Homo sapiens: one gene and its partner. The protein of the gene in region 2 interacts with the protein of the main gene of each other region in a pairwise test. Each region holds a gene or a part of one and is shown on either strand. Other genes may lie near its edges.

Region 1 (12,364 bases), on a different chromosome or scaffold from region 2:
GTAAAAAGGGATGATAGTGTACGGATTGTGGTGTAGATTAGAGGAGATGATACCTGTTAAGTATTTGGCATAGTGCTGGTGCATAATCTAGTACTCTTCGTGTTTTTTTCACAGGGGTTTTTGTCTGTTTATCTAATTGCTTCTTGTGCTGTCACTTTCTGTGGCTAGTAATTGCATTGTTCCCTGTTGTGGGGGATGTGGTTGCCTTTTCTTCCCGTTGCCTCGATCTCCTGCCTTGGGCCACATCCCCCAGATGATAAATGTTTAAGAACCAAGTAAACTAGATAAGACAAAACAAAACAAACAAAATAACATCTAAAGTTTGGCTGTGATTATGTAAAAGACTTGTAACGTGATGGTGACTTGTTAGGTGGATTTTTAAGTTTTACAAGAACAACACCCTCCCTGTTGCTTGTATCCTGACAACATGCAGGGGCCAGGCACCTTGCAGTCCCTGCAGCGTCATCCCTAGAGCCTGGCAAGGACAATGAAGTGCGTCTCTGCCAATTGAGAAAAAAAATCCATTTTAAACATTCAAGATGTGAGTGAAGTTCTTCTTGAAAAAAGCTTAAAATTGCTCAGACCACCTAGTTAGAGGGTATCAAGAAAACCTACTCTCCATGCAATATATAAGAAAAACAGTATAGTCCGGATTAAAAAAAAAAACAACTATGAGACCCACCTTGAAGAGCATTAAAACTGTTGAGATATTAGAAAGATTTTAAGTAAGTGAAAAATGCTATTTAAAAATGAAAAGGAAAGAAAGCTAGAAGAAAATATAGGTATCTTTGATCCTAAGGAATAGGAAGACTGCTGTGTACCTAAAAGCAGCAGAAAACACTTGGAAAAAAGGCTGAAAGGAAGTTCATTGTGGCTATTTTAGTGGTGGAATTACTGGTGCTATTTTTCCCATATTTTCCCCCTTTTTTGGTACTTGGTATCAGTATTTTACTTAAAGGAAAACAAATGGATTGTAAATATACACTTTGGTTAAGAACAAATCTTGGAATCCCAAACTTGCAAAGGTTTTTGAAGAATTGTGAACCTGGGCAATGGGGGTCCTTCGGTAAAGTCTGTCTTCCGGCACATTAACTTCTCCTGAAGAGCAGTGGATTGCAAACCTGAATGGCAGCCACTTTAAGATTTTAAACGTATATCTCGTGGAAAGGGAAGTGAGCAGATTTTCAGACCAGTAAGGAAAAGGAAACCATTTTAACTTCATAAAATGATGCCCTTTGAGCCTTTTTATGACAGGAACGTGTTAGCTCTTTCTCTGCATCTTACCCATAGATCCTCCTCAAAGAGAACGAGATTGTCTTCCAATTCAAGGAAGCAGAAGGTCTCCTCTTCCCACTTGAGAAAAGATGTAGGTTCTTTGAACCCAGCCCTAGCCAGTGGAACTTCTTGCAGCAATGGAACTGTCTCCTATCTTCCCTGTGCAATATGATAGGCACTGACCCTGTGGCATCGAGCCCTTGAAGTGTGGCTGGTGTGACGGAGGAACTGAATTTTTAAGGTCTTTTTTCTTTTCTTTTCTTTTTTTTTTTTTTTTTTGAGACAGTCTCACTCTGTCACCCAAGCGTGACACCCAAGAGTGCGGTGGCACCATCCCGGCTCTCTGCAATTTCTGCCCCCCAGGTTCAAGCGATTCTCCTTCCTCAGCCTCCCGAGTAGCTGGGACTACAGGTGTGCACCACCAGGCCCGGCTAATTTTTTGAATTTTTAGTAGAGACAGCTAATTTTTTGAATCACCATGTTGGCTTTGAGCTTCTGACCTCAAGTGATCTGCCCGTCTTCGCCTCCCGAAGTGCTGGGATTACAGGCAGGAGCCACTGCGCCGGCCTGTTTTAAAAATTCTAATTAATTGACATAGCCACAGATGGCCAGTGGCTACTATATTGGGCAGGGCAGTATTTAATGCTTCTTCACGGTCTATTTTTCTCTACCTTCCTATGTTAGGAGCGCAACTGGAAAGAAAGCAGTGATCAGAGCTGGGGGAGGAGAAACCATTTTGCTTTTCCCCCTTCTAACCCCCACCTCCAGTCTTTGATGATTGGCCTTATCTCTTTGCACAACTTCTGCATCTCCCTTTTTTTTTTTTTTTTTTTTTGGGATAAAAACTATTTGTACTAAAGATCATTTTGACTAGAGTGCCAGGAAGAAGGTGCTGGGAATTTGTTTAATATACGTATCATATAATTCATCTCTAGTCACCTTCCCGACAGAACAGAATTTGCTGAATATATCCCTATTTTCATGTTAAAATACTTGAACTCTGTTCAAGGGAGTTGGCTCACCTGCACTGGTGATCCCCATGGCAAGAGAGCCTTGTCCTCCCCAGCCTTTGCTCTTGAAAATGTTTTGGTTTGGAGGTCGAAGGTTCAGCCTCAGCTGTTGTTAACTTTGCATGGGATCAGACAGAGGGACAGACAGAATGGATGTGGGAAGTTTAGTTAGATCTGGCCATCTTCCAGATTGGGGTGGCCTTGTCTTCCTGGGTCCCTCCTGCTGACCATACCCTAGGCATCAGGAGATCCAACAGGTCTGTCAGTTTCCCTCTCCCAACCTCTCAGTTCCTTTATAAATGTAAGAACTTTCTGTGGTTTGGCATAGTGGTTCTCAACCTACTGCTCCAGGATCACCTGGAGGGCGGAAGGCTTGCTAACAGATGGCTGGGCCCCACCCCCAGAGTTTCTGCTATAGTCGGTCTGTGGGGGCGGGCCTAGACCCTAGAATGTACATTTCTAACATGTTCCCAGGTTAAGGGAGTGAGGTTGCTGTTCCAGGAGCACACTTTGAAAAGCCATGGTTTAGTCGAATCTTCTTGCACCTTCCTGGATAGGAAAAGGATAGTTGACCTCTTATCCACCTTGGCTTTTAGATTTTGCCACGTAGTCAACCTGGCCCTTGGAATCTGCCCAGCCTCTTTGGCCTCTGCTTACTTTTTACACCTGAATGCCTCTAGTCTCAGCCTTCACCTAAAGGGTCAGCAGCTTCTCTTTGAGCGTGTAGGGTGGGGCAAGAAGGACGCCAGGGGATTGTGGGCTTTGGGGCTGATTGAAAGCCTGGCTTATTATGAATACAGCTTTTTTAAGGCTTAGGAGCTCTGGGTCCTGCACAGTGAGTGCGTGCGGTCACGGTTGTGAGGCTGCTCACCCACAAAATGTGATTTATTTCTCAGCGCTCTTCATGGACTTACTGGATGTTCTGTTTAGAAAGTTAGAAAACAAAGATAACTTCTTTGAATTGCCCTCAGGAGATTAGTTTTCTAGAATGGAGAAAAAAATATAAAAATTACTTGTTTTTGTTAAGTTGGTTCATAGAATGCCAACAGAGAATGCTGTCCCTGCAAACCACCCCCCACCCCATCACCAGAGACAGGGATACTAAAATACTTCTTGGCAGCAAGATGGGCTGGCCTTTGGTATGATCGTCAACTGGGCTTCCATGTCAATGGGTTTCTGACAGGGCCACCAAAGAATGTTCTGTTCCCCGGGCATGAAGTGACTTTCTGATTAATGTTGGCCATGATTTCCCCTACCTCACAGGGTTATCTTGACAGCAGTTTAGAAAAATGGCTTAAGTAGAGGACAATATTTAGTGGGCAAAAACTAATGTTAAGCCTTTATGTATTGACTCATGTACTCCTTTTCATAACTCCATGAGGACAGGTCCAGTTATAATTCCCTTTTTGTAGGTGAGCAAATGAAGATATCAGAGGAGATATGGGTTTTGCACACATTCAGCTAGTTACGTGCTGAGCCTGAAGTGCATGCCCTTAATCTCTATGCTGTTCGACCTCTCTGCTCACCACCCTGTGTCATGTATCCTTAGCTGTTTGACCACATTGCCGAATGCCTGGCTAACTTCATGGATAAGCTACAAATCAAAGACAAGAAGCTCCCACTGGGTTTTACCTTCTCGTTCCCCTGCCACCAGACTAAACTAGACGAGGTAAGATGGGCTCCTCAGACACTTGTTGCTTCACTCTTGGGGCTGGGAGGGCTGAGAGGGACTTCTGAGCCACCTGCTGTGGTGGTGGTGGTAGCACTGGAGGATTGTGGAGATGAAGTTCTGCCTTTCTGGGTGACTGTGTATGTCGATGGGGGGGCTGGTGAAGAAATCTGGGGGGTTGGGAGTGCCCTTTATCACCCTCTCTCCCACACACATTGCACAGTATCCTTATCCCCTCCACAGAAACAGGAATGAGAAATCAGGAACTCCCCAGTCTAAAGTGTTATGATAAAGACCCTTGGAAGAAAGATACTTGGAGAGTTAATGATGTAAGGACACAAGTACAGTCATGTATTGCATAACAATGGGGATATGTTCTGAGAAATGCTTTATTAGGTGATTTCACTTATGTATAAACATCATAGAGTGCACTTACACAAACCTAGATGGTATAGACTACTACACACCTAGGCTGTATGGGACAGCCTGTTAACTCCTAGGCCACAAATCTGTATAGCATGTTACTGTACTGAATGCTATAGGCAATTGTAACACAGTGATATCTGTGTATCTAACTAGGCAATAGGAACTTTTCAGCTCTATTATAATCTTGTTACCACCGCAGTATACACAATCTGTCACTGACTGAAACATTGTTATGCGGCACATGACTGTGTCTTATAGTGCCAGTTGTCCTGAGTTTCTTTTTCCTAGGCTAGCCAGGAAGTAACACACAAATTCAATCATGACTTTACCCCAGTGGCAGAGGTCTCTGCTAATGACGGAGGTTTGAGGGGTGTGGTGTGAGTTTCAGTTTTAGTGGGAAATCAATATTCACTTCTTGGTCCCTTTCCAGAGTTTCCTGGTCTCATGGACCAAGGGATTCAAGTCCAGTGGAGTGGAAGGCAGAGACGTTGTGGCTCTGATCCGGAAGGCCATCCAGAGGAGAGGGGTGAGTGGGGTGGCAGGAGCTTGGGGTCTGTGGGCTTTTCTGGGTCCACCCTGAAGACTCCCTGAGTGTCCTTGACTCATCATTGTTTGCTTACGTGGAGCTTAAGGAGAGTTCTCTTTTCCCTGACACATGTACTCAATAATTTTGTATGCGATCTGCTGCTTTGGGGGTTTTTAGATTATCAAATGGATAAATAATCTTAGCCTTGGCACAAGAAAAGCTCTTTAGTTCTTAACCTGAAGAAGACTTGAATGTGATTTCCAAGTAAGAAAGTTGGAATGATGTTGACATGGGAGTGGAATGGCTCAGAGAGAGAATGAATTAAAAGTCTTATCACAGGAGGAGTTATGGGGAGGGAGGGGGGAGAGAGAGAGAAGGAGGAGGAGGAGGAGGAGGAGTGATATATAGCTGGTGTTAGGAAAGTCGCCCTCTGTGATGATGAAGGTCAGAGCCCTCCCATTTGTCTCCACAGGACTTTGATATCGACATTGTGGCTGTGGTGAATGACACAGTTGGGACCATGATGACCTGTGGTTATGATGACCACAACTGTGAGATTGGTCTCATTGTGGGTGAGTGAACACCGTGCATGAAGGGCCCGTGCTGGCCAAGGGATGGGGGTGTGGGCTGGAAAGGGAGAAGGGGCCCATGGGCTGGGTGTTCCTTTGTAGTTCATATTAGAAGATAATGGTCCAGTCACTTTGGAGAGCCGAGCAGGGACTCATGGAGTTGGGGGTGGCAGAAGATTAGACCATGTATTGTGATGCCCCCAGAGTCTGCAGTGAGAAATCCCAGCCATCCTGGCCGGGCAGTCTCGGGACAGTAGTATAAGAGGGAAGAGGGGTGGGAAGGGGCCGGAGCAGGCGTGTGCATAGCCGTCCCTTGTTTTGGCAGGCACGGGCAGCAACGCCTGCTACATGGAAGAGATGCGCCACATCGACATGGTGGAAGGCGATGAGGGGCGGATGTGTATCAATATGGAGTGGGGGGCCTTCGGGGACGATGGCTCGCTCAACGACATTCGCACTGAGTTTGACCAGGAGATTGACATGGGCTCACTGAACCCGGGAAAGCAACTGTGAGTAGGCCCTTCCTGTGCGAGTGGGCTTGGCGGGGGCCTGGAGCTGAGTCTGGGGCTGGTCGGGGCCAGGGGGTTGTTTCTTTACAGTCTTACATCCCCAAAGCTTGCCAAGGTGGCCACTGGTCATAGGAATGTCTGTGACTATAAATTGCTGAGAGGATCTAAAACAGAGAGCAAGCGGATATACCAGATTATAGCTAATAATGTGTTTCCTTCACAGGAGTCATTTTGGAAGGTTCTATTCTGAGTGTAAGTGGGTGGCCCTGCTCTTTCTTTCCACCTTCTATTTGTAAATTGTCCATGGGAACTGTGAGCCACCTAAGGAAAGTTGTGTTGAGGTGGCCAAGATTGGGGTCTCTGAAAGCTCCTTTCATAGCTCCAACTCCATCACCACCCAGAGGACAGGCTGACAGCTGGCTGCTCATTGCTGCTCCCTGGGGTCCCAGGGCCTCCTGCTGCAGCTGCAGGCAGACCCATGGCCCCTGGAGACATTGGCTGAGGAGCTTCCTTGGCCTCCTTCACTTGGACCTTGGCCCAACTATGTCCTGGGATGGATTGGAGGAGGGGCGTCTAGCATTTTGGATCCTGAATATTGTATTCTCCAGCCTGGCCTGCCTTTGTTTTTAGTTGCTTTTATCTCTTACAAAACCTTATTTCACCCTCACAAACATTTGCCAAATGTGCGTGTGAAAGATCTTGAAACAGGGATTGCTTCAAGGTCTGAAGCAGTTGCAAAATATTTTGAGCAATACAGATCATCTCTGGTCTTGTGACTGTTGTAGAAAAGCTTTTCGTGCAGATCTCTACTTGGACAGGAAAATTGAACCCTATAAATCAAGTCAGTGGTGGGTAACCCAGGAGAGTCCTTGCTTTCGTTTTTTTTTTTTTTTTTTTGAGACAGAGTCTCTCTCTGTTGCCCAGGCTGGTGTGCAATGGCGCAATCTTGGCTCACCGCAATCTCTGCCTCCCGGGTTCAAGCGATTCTCCTACCTCAGCTTCCTGAGTAGCTGGGATTACAGGCGCCTGCCACCACGCCCAGCTAATTTTTGTATTTTTATTAGAGACAGGGTTTCACCATGCTGGCCAGACTGGTCTCGAACTCCCGACCTCAGGCGGTCCGCCCTCCTCGGCCTCCCAAAGTGCTGGGATTACAGGCGTGAGCCACCGCGCCCGGCCTGAGAGTCCTTGCTTTGTCAAAGCATGGTTTATTTATCTAAGTCACAAGCTTGTTTCACATGTTGAAATGAGTCCTTTACTTGAAATTTCTGAGGATCATACTGGTTGTGTCTGCCATGGCTGATGAGAGGTTTATGAGCTGAAAAGTCACTCAGTGCCTGCCTCCATGAATGAGGCACACCCAAGTCATTCCGAGGAACTAAAGGCCCTTTCAAATGTCAAAAGACAAATTTGCCAGCCAGACCATGACAGCACACCCCCGGCTTATCCTTTGACACCCACCAAATTGTCATCCATGGTAGCCCTGAAGTCACTACAGACAATTTTTGTCCCCTCTAATATATTTCCAAGTAAGTATCTTCCAAATGTTGACTGGAACAAAGTGTTTTTAAAAACTAGAATAAAAACTTAGCAACACGGAGTTCCTTACTGTTGAAGCCAGGCTCCCATCCACGCTGGTTTCCTTCTCCTGAAGCTCTGCCTGTGTGGGTGCACTAACATTTAAAATGCGCGCTGTCATCTTCACAATTTTGCCAGCTCTCAGTTAGCCCTGATGCTGCTGTACTCGGCCTTGGGTCTTGAGCAGGCTGCTTCCTGGAGGCCTGGGTTTCCTCTCGGAAAGGTAACCTTGGAATCCCTTCCACATCTCAGTCCTGGGCCTCCTCCTCGCTGGGGCTCATCCTAGTTAGTGGCAGCAGGCCCATGTGCCTCCTCTAAGACACAGGTTCTTTCTCAAACACCCAGAAATGGGCCTTTTGTCAAAAAGAATTATCACCAGGGCTTGGTTTCCTCTCAGTTCTAGTCAGAAAGACCAATTATGAAAGAAAACAGTGCCACCTAGTGTTAAAATTAAATCACCGGACCGCACTGCTGGTTTGGGGGCCGTCCCCTGCCTTTCTAAAACATCTTGTCACCTGCCTGCTTAGAAGCCTGTTTCACTCCCAGACCCCTGAGACCTGTCATTTAGAGCTCGGAGCCCAGTGCAGATTCCTCTATCCCAACCTGCCTTTATAATGTTGCCCCATCATCCCCTGCCCCAGGTGGTTTTCACACCATTTTCTCTGGAGCCCATGAACGGCTTGCAGGGGTGGACAGTATGAGCTGATGAGTTTCTAGGCCTGTGCTACATATCTAATCAGATCGCCTTTTTTCTCTTGTAAATAAATATTGGGCTATGTAAGATATTAATTTTAAAAATGATTTCCTGGCTAGAGAAGAATTTTAAAGATTACCACCCTACGCATAACTTTACCTAAAATACAGGCTGTTCCAGAATGTTCCATACTCCCTGTGTGTTTCATTTGGCTGCTTAAGTTTCATTTATTCTTCTCCATAGGTCAAGGCCCATCAGCCTGCAGGGACAACCCAAGCCAGCCCCTCTGAGCCGTCACCTCTCCACGTATCTTACTCCTGGGCCGTGCTGCACACATTAACCCTTAGTTGTGAAGTTGCACGTGTGCGCATCTTGCTTCAACAGGGAAGCTATGAGTACATGGGCAGTGGGGACTTTATGTTTTTGGTTTGTGTCTTCCGGCAGGTTTGAGAAGATGATCAGTGGGATGTACATGGGGGAGCTGGTGAGGCTTATCCTGGTGAAGATGGCCAAGGAGGAGCTGCTCTTTGGGGGGAAGCTCAGCCCAGAGCTTCTCAACACCGGTCGCTTTGAGACCAAAGACATCTCAGACATTGAAGGGTGAGCTTCTGGCCAGCCCCCTCTATTTGCTGGATCACCACACGAGTTGACGGGTAGTTGGGGAATGAGGAGGGGGCTGTACCTTTTGACTCTTCAAGTATAGACTGCAAGAGGGTCTCACATGACGTGGACCATGGCGGGCCTGTGGCTTCACTTCACTTACCAGTCTCCACTCTTGTCGATTTCGATTGTGATTGCTACCAGTGACTCATGGTACTGGGAACGGTGGTTGGCCTCCATATGCAGGGACTTGGGCTGTTGCACTGGGTTTAAAGCTGGAGGACCCCAGAGGGCCCCCGAAAGACTTAGCTGCATCTGCCTCCTTTTCCTTCTCCTGAAGCTCTGACATCTGATTCCCTATTGGCAATTCTCAAAAAGGACTCTGTCATGACCCCTGCTTCATAATAGAAAGCTAGGTCTTTGAATTGGCCAGAGATATAGCTACCCAATTAATTCTAATAAGCAGAGCTGGGGCCTGCATTTTCACAGCCCAGCAGGGGCAAGAGTGAGGATGGCTTGATTTTTGTTGTTGTTAACAATATCCCAAGAGTCAGGCGGGCCTCGTTTACTGTTCTTGAGATTTCCACTTGTAGATTGAAGAAGTCCTGGTGTTTCAGGGACCAGATGGTGGAGAGGAGGTGTCTTTGGAGCCAAATGGAGCAGTGGAACAGTGCCAATGACTTTGTTTTAAGGGGAAACTCTTGAAGGAATGGGGCCTACTTGTTGCTATACCCCAAGGTGATGCAAGTACCCCAAGGTGATGCAAGATTTAGTTCCCTTGAGAAGGGTGCTAAGGTTATAGCACTAGCCCCTTACCAACCATCTTTAGACACAAGCTAAAGCAGTGCCAAGTCCATGGTGAAATGCAATAGACTCCTACTGCTTTAGAGAGAGAAACCAGGTGGGCATCACCGCAGGGTTCACATGTTGAGAGTGGCTGACAGCAGAGACACTGTCTGTCTCCCCTAACACAAGCAGATGTAACACAAACTCTCACACACACAACTTGGTGGTAAAGCACCAAGAACAGGGCCTTGTTTTTACATAGCACATGCATAAGAAATACTTGTGTTTCTCAACTCCGTGTGTCTCTGTGTGTGTGTGTGTGTGTGTGTGTGCGCACGCACATGCGTGTGCGTGTGTGTGTGGTGTCTGGGAGAGGAGCCTCAGGGTGGCTGTGCTATATTTTGCACCCCCTTCCTCCTCCTCCTGCCCCTGCACAGGTGGACTAAGCAATGAAGAGGGATTCTGTCCCCACTGGGTGGTGAATTTGCTGGAACTAAAGGGCTTCCTTGCCACCCCCCGACACACACACTGGCCACAGTGGGTCAGACACAGGCCCACATGCTATCTTTCTGTTTCCCAGGGAGAAGGATGGCATCCGGAAGGCCCGTGAGGTCCTGATGCGGTTGGGCCTGGACCCGACTCAGGAGGACTGCGTGGCCACTCACCGGATCTGCCAGATCGTGTCCACACGCTCCGCCAGCCTGTGCGCAGCCACCCTGGCCGCCGTGCTGCAGCGCATCAAGGAGAACAAAGGCGAGGAGCGGCTGCGCTCTACTATTGGGGTCGACGGTTCCGTCTACAAGAAACACCCCCAGTGAGTCAGTGTGCAGGGCCTGGAGATGCGGAGTTCCTGGAGTACCTGGGGCTGAGTGACTCCTCATGCCAGCTCCATTTTGCATTTCAGGGGTGGTGTGGAGGGACCATAGAGCTGAGGGTCTTGGTGGAATGAAAGTTCCCACCTGGGCAAGGGGGAATGGGAGGAAGTCATATCTGGTGTGGGTGGAGGTGATTTCTGAAGGCTACTGATGACTCGGGCTCTCCGCAGAGCTCCTCTGGCTGCTGGACACTCTCTTTGCCACCCTCTTGTATGCGTTATTGTTCCTGTCTTTACTCTTAGAATTCTTGGTGATTCCTGCAGGTGCTATGTCCTCTGCCAGGGACCACCCCAGCCCAGTGAGGGTTACCAGCTTCTCTGGCTGACCTTGGTATTAAATTGATCCTGCCCTGTCCACATTTTGATCCCTCAGGTCATAGGTACCAGAATATTCACATGTCAGCTGAGACCTGGAAGATGTCTCTTTATTGTGCCTACTTATTTCCCCATCATTTTCACCTAATAAGAATGCCAGGTCAATGTGCCTTTGTTTTCTTAACTTGTCGGTGCAGGAGGCCTCAGCCCTGAGATTCCCTCTTCCTACCCAGTGTTGCAAAAACTCGAGTGTGCACGTGAATCACATGGGGATCTTGCTAAGAGGCAGATTCTGATCAGAAGGTCTGGGGTGAGTCTGAGATCCCGCATCTCTAACAGCCCCCAGTAGGCTGCAGCCTACTCCTGCACTTGGAGTAGGAAGGCCCTGGAGACCATGGCTCCAAGTGGCCACTACCCAGAGAGTTCCTGGCTGAACACGTTGTCTTTAGCTGTGCAGACACCTTTGGGATCATTGGCAGAAACTGGCAAAAGAGAGGCTAAAGTCCAGAAGAGCATCTCTAGCTTTTAATTTTGGGTCTTTCCCAGACAGCAGCTAGTGAAATGAGTGATAGAACAAGACAGATAGGTGGCATCAGAACCACCTAATACCACAGGGCTGCTCCAGCAAAGAGGCTGATGGTACCATGTTGGGCAAGGGAGCAGTGGCCAGGGGGCCTTCTTCAGTGAGGAAGAGGAGGTCTTGTGTGGCTGCATGTAGGGGACAGTGGCTTATTAAAAGGTCTTTTCCTTTCATTGGCGGGGGTGAACCAATCCTGGGTGGTCATAGTTGATATGGTTCTTGTAGTGGTTCCTAACTTGGGACAGTGGAGAGAGGATGTTTAGGGCAGCACCCACTCCTGCAGGTGCCTTTTGGCATTTGGATTAAGGCGGTGGGCAACTGTCTAACTATTTGCACCATTGACCCTAACCATGGACACCTGTCTCTTACCCGCCCTGGGGAACTGCAGTTTTGCCAAGCGTCTACATAAGACCGTGCGGCGGCTGGTGCCCGGCTGCGATGTCCGCTTCCTCCGCTCCGAGGATGGCAGTGGCAAAGGTGCAGCCATGGTGACAGCAGTGGCTTACCGGCTGGCCGATCAACACCGTGCCCGCCAGAAGACATTAGAGCATCTGCAGCTGAGCCATGACCAGCTGCTGGAGGTCAAGAGGAGGATGAAGGTAGAAATGGAGCGAGGTCTGAGCAAGGAGACTCATGCCAGTGCCCCCGTCAAGATGCTGCCCACCTACGTGTGTGCTACCCCGGACGGCACAGGTACACGGCAGGGTTGCCACCTGGCTCACATGGTGGGCCTTTGTCCTGGTGTTGATACCCTGGGAGGGATCCCTTAGCATTAGCATTGGACATTTGAACCAGAACACGTTTCTTCAGCCGTATTACTAGGGAGTTCTAGTCTTTGATAAACTCAAACAAGGTGCTCCTCTGCAAACAGTAGTAATGGTCAACACTTATTGAATGCTTACTGTGTGTCAAAGCACTTTATGTGTATGAGCTCATTTAATCTTTGTTAACTG
Region 2 (13,133 bases):
TCCCCCTCAAGTAGTGGCTCAGCTAATAAAGGCACACATATTTCCAAAAAAAAAAAAAAAAAGGAAGTTAAATGGATGGTTTTGCCGGGGACTCACTGCAAACACCTACAACATTCCAAGGAACCAGACCCTTCAGTAGTGCTGGATAGGTGATGGTAATGCCAACCTACACGTGTTGGAGTTTTCAACAATGCTGTGCCATAAGCTCATGAGAAGTTATAGTCTGACAATGATGATAGACTTGAATTCTGGAATCTTGGGCAGTCTGTTCCAGAAATGATACACACTGGTACTTTCATTTCAAAGTATGAAGAAAGATAAACCACATACAGGAACAGCACAAGATTCCTAACAGGTTCTGTTGAACTTAAATTGCTTTAAAGATTTTTTTGCATTATCTGAAGAGGTAAGTCCAATAAAATTATCTAACTCTTCAAAAAGTCATTACATTTAACTATGGTGATAATGAGTCAAATTTAAAAATCACTTCTTTTCCTGAAAGAATCACCAGGTTTTGGTTTTGAGAACTCTGAAGGCAAGAAGCAGGAGGATCCAGACCGGAAAGCATTGAACCAGCCCTCTCACTCCATCTTCCTACACATAAAACAGAACAAAATAAACTATTGTCATAACTCCACACAATTATATTAAGAGACTAAAAAGTAGCCTCAAAAATGGCTGGTGATGTTCAAGTAATCTACAAATACCGGGTTTTAACAAATTAAGTAGGAAACAAAAGACGGTGAGTGGTAAAGTTGCTTTGGTTAAACTCCTACTTCCTCAACTTGCCATGTGACTTTAAGCAAGTTACAAGGCGTCTCTGTCTCAGCTGCCTCATGTGAAAAATGAGGATATCAGTCCTTAACTCACTAAACTGTCAGATTTTAATTACAACAGTGCCTGGCAAATAATCATTTATTAAGACTTATTTTTTAAATGATTCCTATGAGGGCCTCCGGAATCAAACCCTTTTTAAGCAGCAGAAAGGGAATAAAATCCATATTTATATGACTATTGTCTATTAGGAATCTAAATAGGAATCATCTTACTTTTTAGGGGTTGCCTTACCCCAAATATTCTACAACTTCTGAGTTTTCTTTTTTTTCTTTTTGAGACAGGGTCCCACTGTGTCGCTTAGGCTGGGGTGCAGTGGCCCAATCACAGCTCACTACAGCCCTCACTTCCCAGGCTCACATGATCCAAGTGATCTTCCTGCCTCAGCCTCCCTATTAGCTAGGTTCACAGGCATGCACCACCACAGCCAGCTTTTTTTTTTTTTTTTTGTAGAGAGGAGGTTTCACCATGTTGCCCAGGCTGGTCTTGAACTCCTGTGCTCAAGGGATCCACCCACTTCCGCCCCCCAACGTGCTAGGATTACAGGGGTGAACCACCTTGATGGTCTGAGTTTCAATTATAAATATGACACTGGGCTGGCTGGGTCAGGCGTCTAGAAAGTGCACTAACATTGGAAGAAAGGGTGATCAGGCCTCTAGTTCCTGTTCTGCTACCGATTAGCTGTGTGACCTTTAGTAAGTTAAGAATTCTCCCAAGGCATTCTATACAACCGAGAGGGGTGGGAGAAGAGATAGTGAGGAACTAGATTTCTAAGGTAGCCATTAAAATCCTGCTAATCCTAAACAGACAATTTTAGAGGATTCTTAAGATTATCTTTCTTATAAAGGAAGGACAGGCCAGAAAAGATAGCTGTTAAAGTCAATTGACAAAGTTAAATCATATTAATGTCCTTTGTGAGCTCCATGAATGCAGAAATGGTATGTTATTTATCTGTATGATCCAGTCTACTGGCACACATTACCTACTCAAAATGCTGGTGTGCTGAACTATACGTTCGTATTTGGGAATCAACTGCACTTTTATTGGAGCTTTCTTTATAGAAGTTATTTCTCAGATATATTTCTTTCCCTGTTGCATCATACACTTTACCTGTCCCCCATTTAATTCTCGCATTAAAGTAGTGAGATACGCACTATCATTTGCATATCAGGAAACTTAAGTCCAGGCTACCTGGCTCTTAGCTGGAGAACAGACTCCAACCGAGGTCTACCTTGCCTGAAAAATCTGTGCTCTTAGCAGGGCGCGGTGGCTCATGCCTGTAATCCCAACACTTTGCGAGGCCGAGGTAGTCGGATCACTTAAGGTCAGGAGTTCCAGACCTGCCTGACCAACATGGCGAAACCCTGTCTCTACTAAAAATACAAAAATTAGCCGGGCGTGGTGGCGCATGCCTGTAATCCCAGCTACTCGGGAGGCTGAAGCAGGAGAATCGCTTGAACCCCGGAGGCGGGAGGTTGCAGTGAGCAGAGATAGCGCCACTGCACTCCAGCCTGGGTGACAGAGCGAGGCTCCATCTCACAAAAAAAAAAAAATAAAAATAAAAATCTGTGCTCTTAACTACCCTGATTTTCACCTCCCGTTAACACTTGGCAAATACATAAAGACCTATCAGCATGCAGCTCCGTGTAACGTTATGATAATAAAAACATTTATTTGGGATGATACGGTCTGCTGAGATCAGAGCTGTGATCCTCTTTTCTCTCCCAGAACTGTAACCTCTGGGGAAAAGAAAGAAGTCTCATATATGTGCCTGGGGGGCTGACTGCCTGGGGAAACGAGGGGGAACCTCAGAAACTGAGAGGATAGCGGAAGGCAGCCGGCATCAAAAACATCAGCCATGGACGAGCAATTCTGCAAACTCTTTGCAATCTGCTGGGGAGCAAAATCGGTACCCAGACAAGTCTGTGGACATGTCTGGCACCGTTTTTGGTGCAGCCACCAAGTGCCTACGAACCCCGATCCCTTGCTCCTCCGGGCCTCACTTTATCTGAAACACGGAACGAAGCTATCTAAGACCTGCCGTCGTCCCTCGGGGCTGCTGGGGTGAGAGGAGGGGCGACACGGGACGGCCCCAGGGCAAGCGCCCCGGAAAAAGCGCTTCCAAGCCAGCCCTCCCGGGCTGGAGCGAGCAGGGAGGGGAGAGGGTGGTGGACCCGTTTTCCCTTCACCCGCTCCAACACACTCAAGGAAGAGAGAGAGAAAGACATCCTGCCACAGCCATACTCACTGCCGGACAACAGTCAGAGCGAAGCGAGCCATGTTCCCGGAGCCGCGTCCCGTCGGTGGCCCCGCGCCGCGCTGCCCCTGCACTGCGGGCTACCTCCCCCACACCACTTCCGCCAAGCAGCCGGCCGGCTCCGCCGCCATAGGCCGAGGCGGCCTCGCACGTCATCCCCGAAGGCCACTCAGGGCCGGGCGAGGCCGACGGGGCGGGGGAGACGAGGGAGCCACGGGGGCCCCGCCCAGGGCTGCGGCGCTTGCGCCCCTGCGCGCCGGCCTGTGATTGGCGCGCGGCAGGTGCGGGAGGCCCCGCCCGCGGAGTCCGCGGTAGGATTCCTTCCCTCGATAGCCGGCAGCCTGCGTTCGGGGCAGATAAGGAAGCCGGCGCACTGATTTGTGGTTGTTGCGATTGAGGCTGGAATGCAACCGTTCGTCTTATAGCTGGCCACTGTGATGAACCCCTCACGGGTGTACAGCGACCAACAGACTGTGTTCTATGAGGTCTGTTAGTCCCTAACCTTAGGGACGTAGCGTCGGCCAGGTCTGTAGACTTAGACCCACCCACCCCAACTCCGCCGGGACAGACGCCCTCCGTGACCAAACTTTAGTCGGGCTCCTTTGAGGCCTTTTCTATACTAGACGGCATCCTCGGCCTGCTGAGCCTGGTTTTACCAAAGAATCCTGCTAAGCCTGTTTATCAAGAGAGACCTCACTGTTGATGCTCTCTTCTAAGGCCCTTGATATCTAGTAAAGTTCCTCCTCCCCCTCCCCCAGATAGCTTACCACGTTCTGGTAATTTCCCATCTTCTCTTTCATCCCTTCCATCCCGCCCCCTGGCTATAAATCTCCACTGGTCCCGGTTGTATTCTAGAGTCGAATTCAGTCTCTCTCACCTATTGCAGTAGTCTTGAGTAAAGTCTTGCCGTTTTTAACAAGCCTCAGATGAATAATTTCTCTTTAATAGCCTTCAGAACGTTGAGGGAGTTGCTTCATGTTAGATATGAGTTCTAAATTTCTTTTCAAAGAATCAATATGTCAGTATGTTCAATTCTTTGCTTTTTACTTTTAAACTTAACTTCCTCCTAAAGCAACCTTCTCTTTTTTATTTATTTATTTATTTTTTTGAGATGGAGTCTGGCTCTGTCACCCAGGCTGGAGTGCAGTGGTGTGATCTCGGCTCACTGCAAGCTCCGCCTCCCGGGTTCACGCCATTCTGGCTCAGCCTCCCGAGTAGCTGGGACTACAGGCGCCTGCCACCACGCCCGGCTAATTTTTTGTATTTTTAGTAGAGACAGGGTTTCACCGTGTTAGCCAGGATGGTCTCGATCTCCTGACCTCGTGATCCGCCCGCCTCGACCTCCCAAAGTGGTGGGATTACAGGCGTGAGCCACCGCGCCCGGCCACAACCTTTTTCGATTACCTGCTGCACTCTGACTCCTTCCCATTACCTACTCCACCCTGACTCCTTCCCATTACCTACTCCACCCTGACTCCTTCCCATTACCTACGCCACCCTGACTCAGATTACCTGCTCTGTCATAACTGTTTTTCCCGCCAAACCACTCACCCCCATCACTCTCTTTAGATTAGCCAATCGGAATTAGTTTAGCCTGTGCGGTGGGGCACTACACAGCAGCAGGGGCCACGTGCGTCAGGGATAAGAACCCCTTCCCCTCCCTTGTCCAAGTGTGCGCTCACCATTGCTCCATCTGTAAGGACGCACCCTTCTATAGAAGTACCTTGCCTTGCTGAGAATTAAAAAGAAAATTTTATATTCGAGTGCTATTTCTTTTGTGGCACTGAAAGTTTATTTATAACATGAGCTTCTCTAACCCTGGGTTTTGTGACAGGTAAACTGGGATAGCAGTACCTAGCAATGTGACACAAGTAACAATAATGTTAGCTAGGTGACATTGTCTTCCATGCACTGTTACCTAAATTCTTGTATTTCATAATGCATTTATTTCCTTGAATCCCCACTTATATATGAAAAGATGTGTTTAGAGAAGAGATGAATGAGATACTTAGATTCATAGGCACACATTTCAAAACAGTCTTACATGTAATATCACATTTGGCCTTCTGAACAATTCTAAGGTAGACAGGATAGGCTACATTATCTTCACTTTAGAGATGAGAAATATGGCCGGGCATGGTGGCTCACGCCTGTAATCCCAGCACTTTGGGAGGCCAAGGCAGGTCAGGAGAATCTGCAGGTCAGGAGATAGAGACCATTTTGGCTAACACGGTGAAACCCCATCTCTACTAAAAATACAAAAAATTAGCCGGGCATGGTGGCACGTGCCTGTAGTCGCAGCTACTAGGGAGGCTGAGGCAGGAGAATCGTTTGAACCCGGGAGGCAGAGGTTGCAGTGAGCCGAGATTCCAACACTGCACTCCAGCCTGGGTGACAGAGCAAGACCCCATCTCAAAAAAAAAAAAAAAGAAATATGGCCGAGAGAGAGACAGCGATTTGTCTAGGCTCACACAACTGGTCAGCGGTGACACAGAACTAGTTTAGAGGTCCTCAAACCTATCTTTACATTAGAATCGTCTGGAGACCTTTGCCAGGCTACACCCCAGAAAAATCAAATCTGAACTTCTGGGGGAAAGACTCAGGCAGCAGTATCTGTATGCTTTTAATCCCCAGCTGTTTCCAACATACAAGTGGCTGTTCTGAGAGCTAGCAGTTTAAAGCAATGCTTCACAAACTCGAACGTGCACACAAAGCAGTTGGGCATAGTGTTAAAATGTAGATTCTGGAGTTAGTAGATTGGAGTGGGGACCAAATTCAGCATCTCTAACAGCTTGCAGGTCAACAGGAGGCATTTTCAGGATGAGAGTGGAGGGATAATTCAGAGGGCCCTAACAGTGGGGCCCAGATATCGTGTGTGTGTGTGTGTGTGTGTGTGTGTGTGTGTGTGTGTGTGTGTGTGTGTGTCCGTGTCCGTGTTCTGAATGCCCAAATGAATGAATCATCCCAGCAGATTCTCCTGGAAGTTTGAGCTGAAAAAATGAAATTAAGTAGTTATCTGTGAGGGGTGAAGCAGAAAGAAAGCACAGAAAGAAATCATAGGATAGAGTTAGGGCTATGAAGGGGCATGGTGATTGAAGCTGTGAAGAAACAGAAGCCATAAATAATACAAGTGAGAGAACAGAGGAGAGGGTACGAAGAAGCAAAGTCAATGGAAGAAGCAAAGAGACACACAGAGAGACACAGACACAAGTGAGTAATGCAAGGAGTACCCAGTCACTGGTCGCTCAAACTGCCATAGTCCCAGATACCTTGAAAGTTCCGGTTTGTATAGTAAAACCTCTTTCACTTTAAGGTGGTCCAAGTGCATTTCTAACGCCTAAATAAAAACAGCTTCCCATTTTGTCTTATTTAATACACACAGTAACTCTGCAAGGTAGGAGTTATTTCCATTTCACAGATGAAGAATTAAGGCACATACAGGTTAACTAATTTCCCATTTCTTGGGCCAGGCACAGTGGCTCACGCCTGTAATCCCAGCACTTTGGGAGGCCGAGGCGGGCGGATCACTTGAGCTCAGGAGTTGGAGACCAGCCTGGCCAACATGGTGAAACCCCTCCTCCACTAAAACACAAAAAGTAGCCGGGCGTGGTGGTAGGTGCCTGTAATCCCAGCTATTCGGGAGGCTGAGGCAGGGGAATTGCTTGAACCCGGGAGGCAGAGGTTGCAGAGCCAAGATCATGCCACTGCACTCCAGCCTGGGCGACAGAGTGAGACTTCATCTCCAAAAACAAACAAACAAACAAAAACTAATTTCCCATCTCTCAAGATCTCAGAACTGAGTTTGAGACCAGATAAGTATACTCCAGGTTTCAAAACTATAAATCATGAGGGTAACTACTGGCTCTATTTCATTACTTCCTTGGTTCCTAAGAAAATGTTTGGAACACAGTGGAGATTCCATTAAAATCTGTCAAATGAATGAAGAATACCTGTTATGATCAGTTTGTCTAATGAAGCATACATATTTAAAAAAGCTGACATATTGGAGAGGATTATTGTTTTAGGAGAAATTTAGAAAGTTGCAAGGCATCCACCAATGTTATTTCTTTTAATTATCTAAGGAATAAATTAAAAAACAATTCTTCATAAATTTTAAGAATCAGGGGCCAGGCGCGGTGGCTCATGCCTGTAATCCCAGCACTTTGGGAGGCTAAGGCAGGCAGATCACTAGGTCAAGAGATCAAGACCATCCTGGCCAATATGGGCAAACCCCGTCTCTACCAAAAATACAAAAATTAGCTGGGAGTGGTGGTGTGCACCTGTAGTCCCAGCTACTCAGGAGGCTGAGGCAGAAGAATCGCTTGAACCCGGGAGGCAGAGGTTGCAGTGAGCCGAGATCGTGCCACTGCACTTCAGCCTGGCGACAGAGCGAGACCACGGCTACAAAACAAAAAAACAAAAAAAAAAACAGCAACGAAAAACTAATCAGGGGCAAAAACCAGGTTGAAAAATGAGGTGTCTTCAAAATAGTGGACATTGTCCTGCATTATTCACTCAGTGGTTCAGGGATTGCCCTTCCACTTATAAAATGAACAGGGAGTTCACTTAAACTGTATTTCAGATAGAAGCTAGAAACACCCATATATGTATGTATGTGTATATATGTGTGTGTGTGTGTGTGTGTGTATCCATATATATTCAGAGAGAAGCCAGAAATACCCCTATATATATATTTCCAGGTTCTATCTGAATTAGTTTACGTGAACTCCTTGTTCATTTTATAAGCAGGATGTGTGTACATATATGTATATATGTATATACATGTATTTGTGTGTATGTGTGTGTATACGTATATAAATACATATATAAAAAATATGTGTATATATGTTTGTTTTTTTTTTTTGAGACAGGGTTTCACTCCCATTGCCCCAGGCTGGAGTGCAGTGGTGTGCTCTCAGCTCACTACAACCTCTGCCTCCCAGGCTAAAGTGATCCTCCTGCCTCCCGCCTCCCGCCTCCCGGGTTCAAGCAATTCCCCTACCTCAGCCTCCTGAATAGCAATTCCCCTGCCTCAGCCTCCCGAGTAACTGGGACTACAGGCCTGCACCACCATGTCTGGCTAATTTTTGTATTTTTAGTAGAGATAGGGTTTCACCATGTTGGTAAGGCTGTTCTCGAACTCCTAACCTCAAGTGATCTGCTTGCCTCGGCCTCCCAAAGTGCTGGGATTACAGGCATGAACGACCACACCCAGCCATCCACCAATATATTTTGTTGACAGCCTCTCAAATCACATAACGCCTTTTTAAAAAAATGAAAAATGGTGCTTTGTTGAAGCGCATCATATGATGGCATTCTGGATTAGGCCACGTTATGCCGAGGTAACAAATTAACTCTGGAATTTCCATGGCTTCACACACAAGTGTTTGTTTTTCTTTCATGCTATATGTCTGACGTGGATCAGAAAGGGTCTTAAAGCCACATACTCATTCAGGACCTAGGGTTGACAGACATGTTAACTTCAGAAACATAAGAATTCACGATTTTTGAGGCAGGAGATGAGAATAGTTGAGGGTCTTGAACCAGTCCTTAGATGCTTCCTTCATTCATTGTCCAGAGCCACTCACGTGGCCCTACCAAATTGCAGAGGTGATGGGAAACGTGAGGTACACATGAATTGTTGGGGGGTAGACAATCCCATAAACCCTGTGCATGTTGGAGTATTGAGGATTCTGCCCTTGGCTCTCTTCTCTACTCAACTGTGCAGTCAGCTAGATGATCTAATCCAGTGTATAGATCTTAGTTATATCCCCAGCCTGGCCTTTCCCTTGAGCTCCTCATTCGTTTATCTGTTATAGTTGCCTACTCAACATCTACGCTTGGGTCTATAGTTGACATCTCAGGCTAACTTTGTCCACACAGAACCTTCCATTTTTACCCCTAAAAACAGCTGGTCTTCAAGTCTTTCTCATCTCAGTAAATGGTAACACCCTCCACTTGACTGCTCATGAAACCCTTGATTCTTTACCTATCCTAATATTCCCTGTCAAATTCATCATAGATTTCTGTAGGCTCAATAATGCAGTGAGTGCTGGATTTTACTCGTTTTCTTGCTTTTTTTTTTTTTTTTTTTTTTTTTTTTTAAGACAGAGTCTTGCTCCGTCACCCAGGCTGGAGTGCAGTGGCGTGATCTCAGCTCACTGAAACCTCCACCTCCCAGGTTCAAGCGATTCTTCTGCCCCAGGCTCCTGAGTAGCTGGGATTACAGGTACCCGCCACCACGCCCAGCTAATTTTTCTATATTTTTAGTAGAAATGGGGTTTCACCATGTTGGCCAGGCTGGTCTCAAACGCCTGACCTCAGGTGATCTGCCTGCGTCTGCCTCCCAAATCTTGTTTTCAAATAAAGATTAATTACTGTCTTCACCGAAGATGAGCCAAGTGTAAAATGCCTGATCTATTTGGAATGTAGGGTAGGGGAGGAGATTGTGGGTTGGAGCCAGTTCCCCAGGCATTTAAATATTTTCAGCAATGCATTAAGAGTGAAATTAATTACATTGTGACCAAAAGCTGGTTAGCTGGAGTCTGTGAAATTTATATTATTCTTGTTTATCTTTTTTTTATTGAAAGGGTTTTTTTTTTTCCTTAGGGGCTATTCTTGGTAGTAAGACTAAGATAGTTGCAGACTTAAATCTCCAGGACTTCAGAGATTTTCAAGGGTATACATTTTTGAAATTTACAGAGACTTGCTTTGTGGACTAGTCCACAGGCATTTCACAGAAATGTTTCGTGTGTCCTTGTGAAGAATGTGGATTCACTCATTATTGGATACAGAGTTCTATATATACGTCTGAAGCAAGCTTATTTATTGTGTCGTACATATCTTCAATAATAAATAAATGATAAAAGCTATCTATCCAAAACCTTTAAAAAAAGTTTATGGGGTCTATCACCAAATTATGTCCTGAATCCACCACTTCTGGAGTCTCACTGTGTCCCAGGCTGAGCCTTCATCACCTCTCGTCTGGATTACTGTGATAGCCTGTTGGCATAGCTCTGCTGCCTCTACTCTGGTACTCAGCCATTGAAGAGATGTCCCTATTGTGTCACTCCCTTGCTGGAGAATTCTCTATTGAATTCTCATTGCAGTTAGAATGAAGTCCCAACTCCTGCAAGGCCTATGTGGCATGGCCCCTCTTGGCCCTCCAGTTACAATTCTCTCTTCGCTGCCCCTCCTCATCCAGCTCCAGCCGTCAGGGCTTCTCTCTGTTCGTAGACCACGTCATGCTCATTCCTACCTCCGGATCTTTGCATTCTCTGTTCCTTCTGCTCACAGAGCTCTTTCCCAAGATATTTGCATGGCTGCCTCCTTCTCAGCCTTCAGGTATCAACTCAGAAGTCCCACTCTCAAGAGGTCTTCCCTCAAGCAAAGTAGGCTGCCCAGTCACTATCCATCATCCGATTTTATTCTGAAATTATATCATTTATGAACATTTTTGTAGGTTCATTGCTTGTCTTTCTTCAGCAGGATATATATTCCTTGACCGTGGGGACTGGCTTGTTCCCTTCTGTGTCTTCAGCACCTCAAGTAGTACTAGATATATTGTAGGAGCCCAAACAATTCATTAGAATCTATGGTTTTTTTTCTTTTTTTTTTTTTGGTTTGTTTCTTTTTTTTTTTTTTTTTTTTTTTTGAGACGGAGTCTTCTCTGTCACCCAGGCTGGGGTGCAGTGGCGCCATCTCAGCTTACTGCAACCTCCGCCTCCAGGGTTCAAGCAACTCTCCTGCCTCAGCTCCCACATAGCTGGGATTACAGGCATGTGCCACCACGCCCAGCTGATTTTTGTATTTTTAGTAGAGATCGGGTTTCACCATGTTGGCCAGGCTGGTCTCAAACTCCTGACCTAAGGTGATCCTCCTGCCTGGGCCTCCCAAAATGCTGGGATTACAGATGTGAGCCACCGTATCCAGCCCTAGAAATCATGTTCTTACAGAATATTTAATGGTATGATAACATTCCCCTGATAGGAGATTACATGAAAAAAGAGTAGAAAGCCATTCGTTTATGAGCCTGATTTTTAAGAAAAAATACATACATATTTTTAAAAGACAAGAAAAAATGTGTAATTTATGTCAAGAGTTTCTCTAGTTGGTAGTTATCATGTTAAAAATGCTTGTTCTGCTCTATTACTAAAGAATTTATTTCCTGAGACACATGCATACAAATAAGCAAGGTGTCTTTCACAAAGAAAATTATCCAGAGGGTGGGTGATGGAGAACATATAAACTGTTCTATGTGGCTACTCACACATACTAAAGCAAGGCAACTTACTATTTTTACTATGTAATAGAATACAGCTGAGAATTTTTTTTTTAAAAAAAACCTTAGTTGAGGGGTAGTATGTTCCTGGTATTTGTTCTGTTTATTTTTAATTAGGTCACTTTATGATTCTAAGATAAAGCTCTTTAAGACTTACCAGAATAGAGGCAGGGTGCAGTGGCTCATGCCTGTAATCCCGGCACACTTTGGGAGGCCAAGGCGGGCAGATCACTTGAGGTCAGGAGTTTAAGACCAACCTGGCCAACATGGCGAACCCCTGTCTCTACTAAAAATACAAAATTAGCTGTGCATGATAGTCCCAGCTACTTCGGAGGCCGAGGCAGGAGAATTGTTTGAACCTGGAAGGTGGAGGTTACAGTGAGCCAAGATCGTGCCACTGCACTCCAGACTGGGTGACAGAGCAAGACTCTGTCTAAAAATATACGTATATTATTAAGACTTACTAGAATAGAGACAAGAGGATTTTAAGTTTCAGAATAAAAATGGACAGACAAAACTGACATCAGATAGTACAGACTGAGAGTGTTTGGGACCAACTGAGAACTGTGGTTTTTGTGATTACCCAAGTTATTTATAACACCACTACTTTGCTTTTTTCTTCTATTGCTTTGAAGTTGGAAATTGTAGTGGTTTATGCAGACTTAATAAAAGAGAAAGTCTTGGGCTTTTACTGGCAGGGATTTTCTTGCACCACCCACTGTCATAATTGATTACATGCTGTACCCTGATGGAAGAACAGAATTTCTAGGCCAACAGAAAATCACAAATACATGGTAAACCATCTGCTTTGTCCAGCGACTGAGAAATAATAATGTGACCAATGACCCAAGTGCGAAGGGACTCCCAGTCCCCATCAGCTTGATGTCTGAAGGTGGAGGGAGACTTGTTTTGGCAGCTGCTCTGCCAACATCTGACATCTGTCACCAATAGCTCCCCATTATTGCTGGTTCCAAAAAAATTATATCTGCCAGTCAAACAGCTTTCCTACTGATGGACAGTCGAAAGATGCCTTCTCAGCCTGCCGTGCTTCTGGGGAACTCCCCTTTATTTGAATACATGCATCCTCTAATCCCTTTTCATGCCTTGCCTGTTAGCCTGTTACTTAGTGGGGAAGAGAACGCTCCCCAAGCCCAAGTTCATTGCTGTCTGGAAGAAGGGCGGCAGCACCAAGGGGATATTATGAGAGTTGTAAATGCTTTTGTTTCACTGCTGTGCTCTTGATAGTAGTCTCATCAGGATCCACAGAAAACCCATATCCACCTCCACCCCTGACTTTTTGGGAAAATAACATTGCATCTACAATGCCTTCAAAAGCAATGAACACGGTCCTTGGTGTGTTTGCATATGTTCAGACTAGCTGATTCTTGTTAAAGCTTTCTATGTATTAGGCACTTTACATAGACTACCTCATTTAATCCTTCTAATAATCCAGAGAGATTTTATAAAAGAATAGCAGAGACTCAGAGCTTGTAAAGCTAAGTGGCAGCCCTGGGATTCAAAGTCAGATCATCTTATTACCTAAGCCTTTTTCCACCACAGCATCCTGACTCTGTCACAATGATTGTATGTAATACAGAAATGTATGATACAGTCCATAATATTCCAGGCAAGTAGCAAGCACTGGGGGGGACATTGGCTAGAAAGGCCAATCCTCTTGTTCTTGCCAGAGCCCTGACAGAATGCTAAGGAAAAGAGAAGACCGCTAGGCCCTAAAATCCTAGGTGTCCTGGCCCTAATACC

What was found.
Region 1: the proteins of TIGAR (region 2) and HK2 interact in binary tests that used the Homo sapiens proteins (3 or more experiments, as listed by UniProt).

Annotation. Positions count from the first base shown.
Region 1 is NC_000002.12:74,868,466-74,880,829, forward strand, and holds part of HK2 (hexokinase-2), read left to right. Parts: intron 1-3,834; coding exon 3,835-3,954; intron 3,955-4,810; coding exon 4,811-4,906; intron 4,907-5,378; coding exon 5,379-5,478; intron 5,479-5,800; coding exon 5,801-5,984; intron 5,985-8,700; coding exon 8,701-8,856; intron 8,857-10,222; coding exon 10,223-10,456; intron 10,457-11,799; coding exon 11,800-12,104; intron 12,105-12,364. UniProt on the Homo sapiens protein: Catalyzes the phosphorylation of hexose, such as D-glucose and D-fructose, to hexose 6-phosphate (D-glucose 6-phosphate and D-fructose 6-phosphate, respectively).
Region 2 is NC_000012.12:4,311,253-4,324,385, reverse strand, and holds the start of TIGAR (fructose-2,6-bisphosphatase TIGAR), read right to left. Parts: upstream 3,174-13,133; 5' UTR 3,115-3,173; coding exon 3,083-3,114; intron 47-3,082; exon of another isoform or gene 1-46.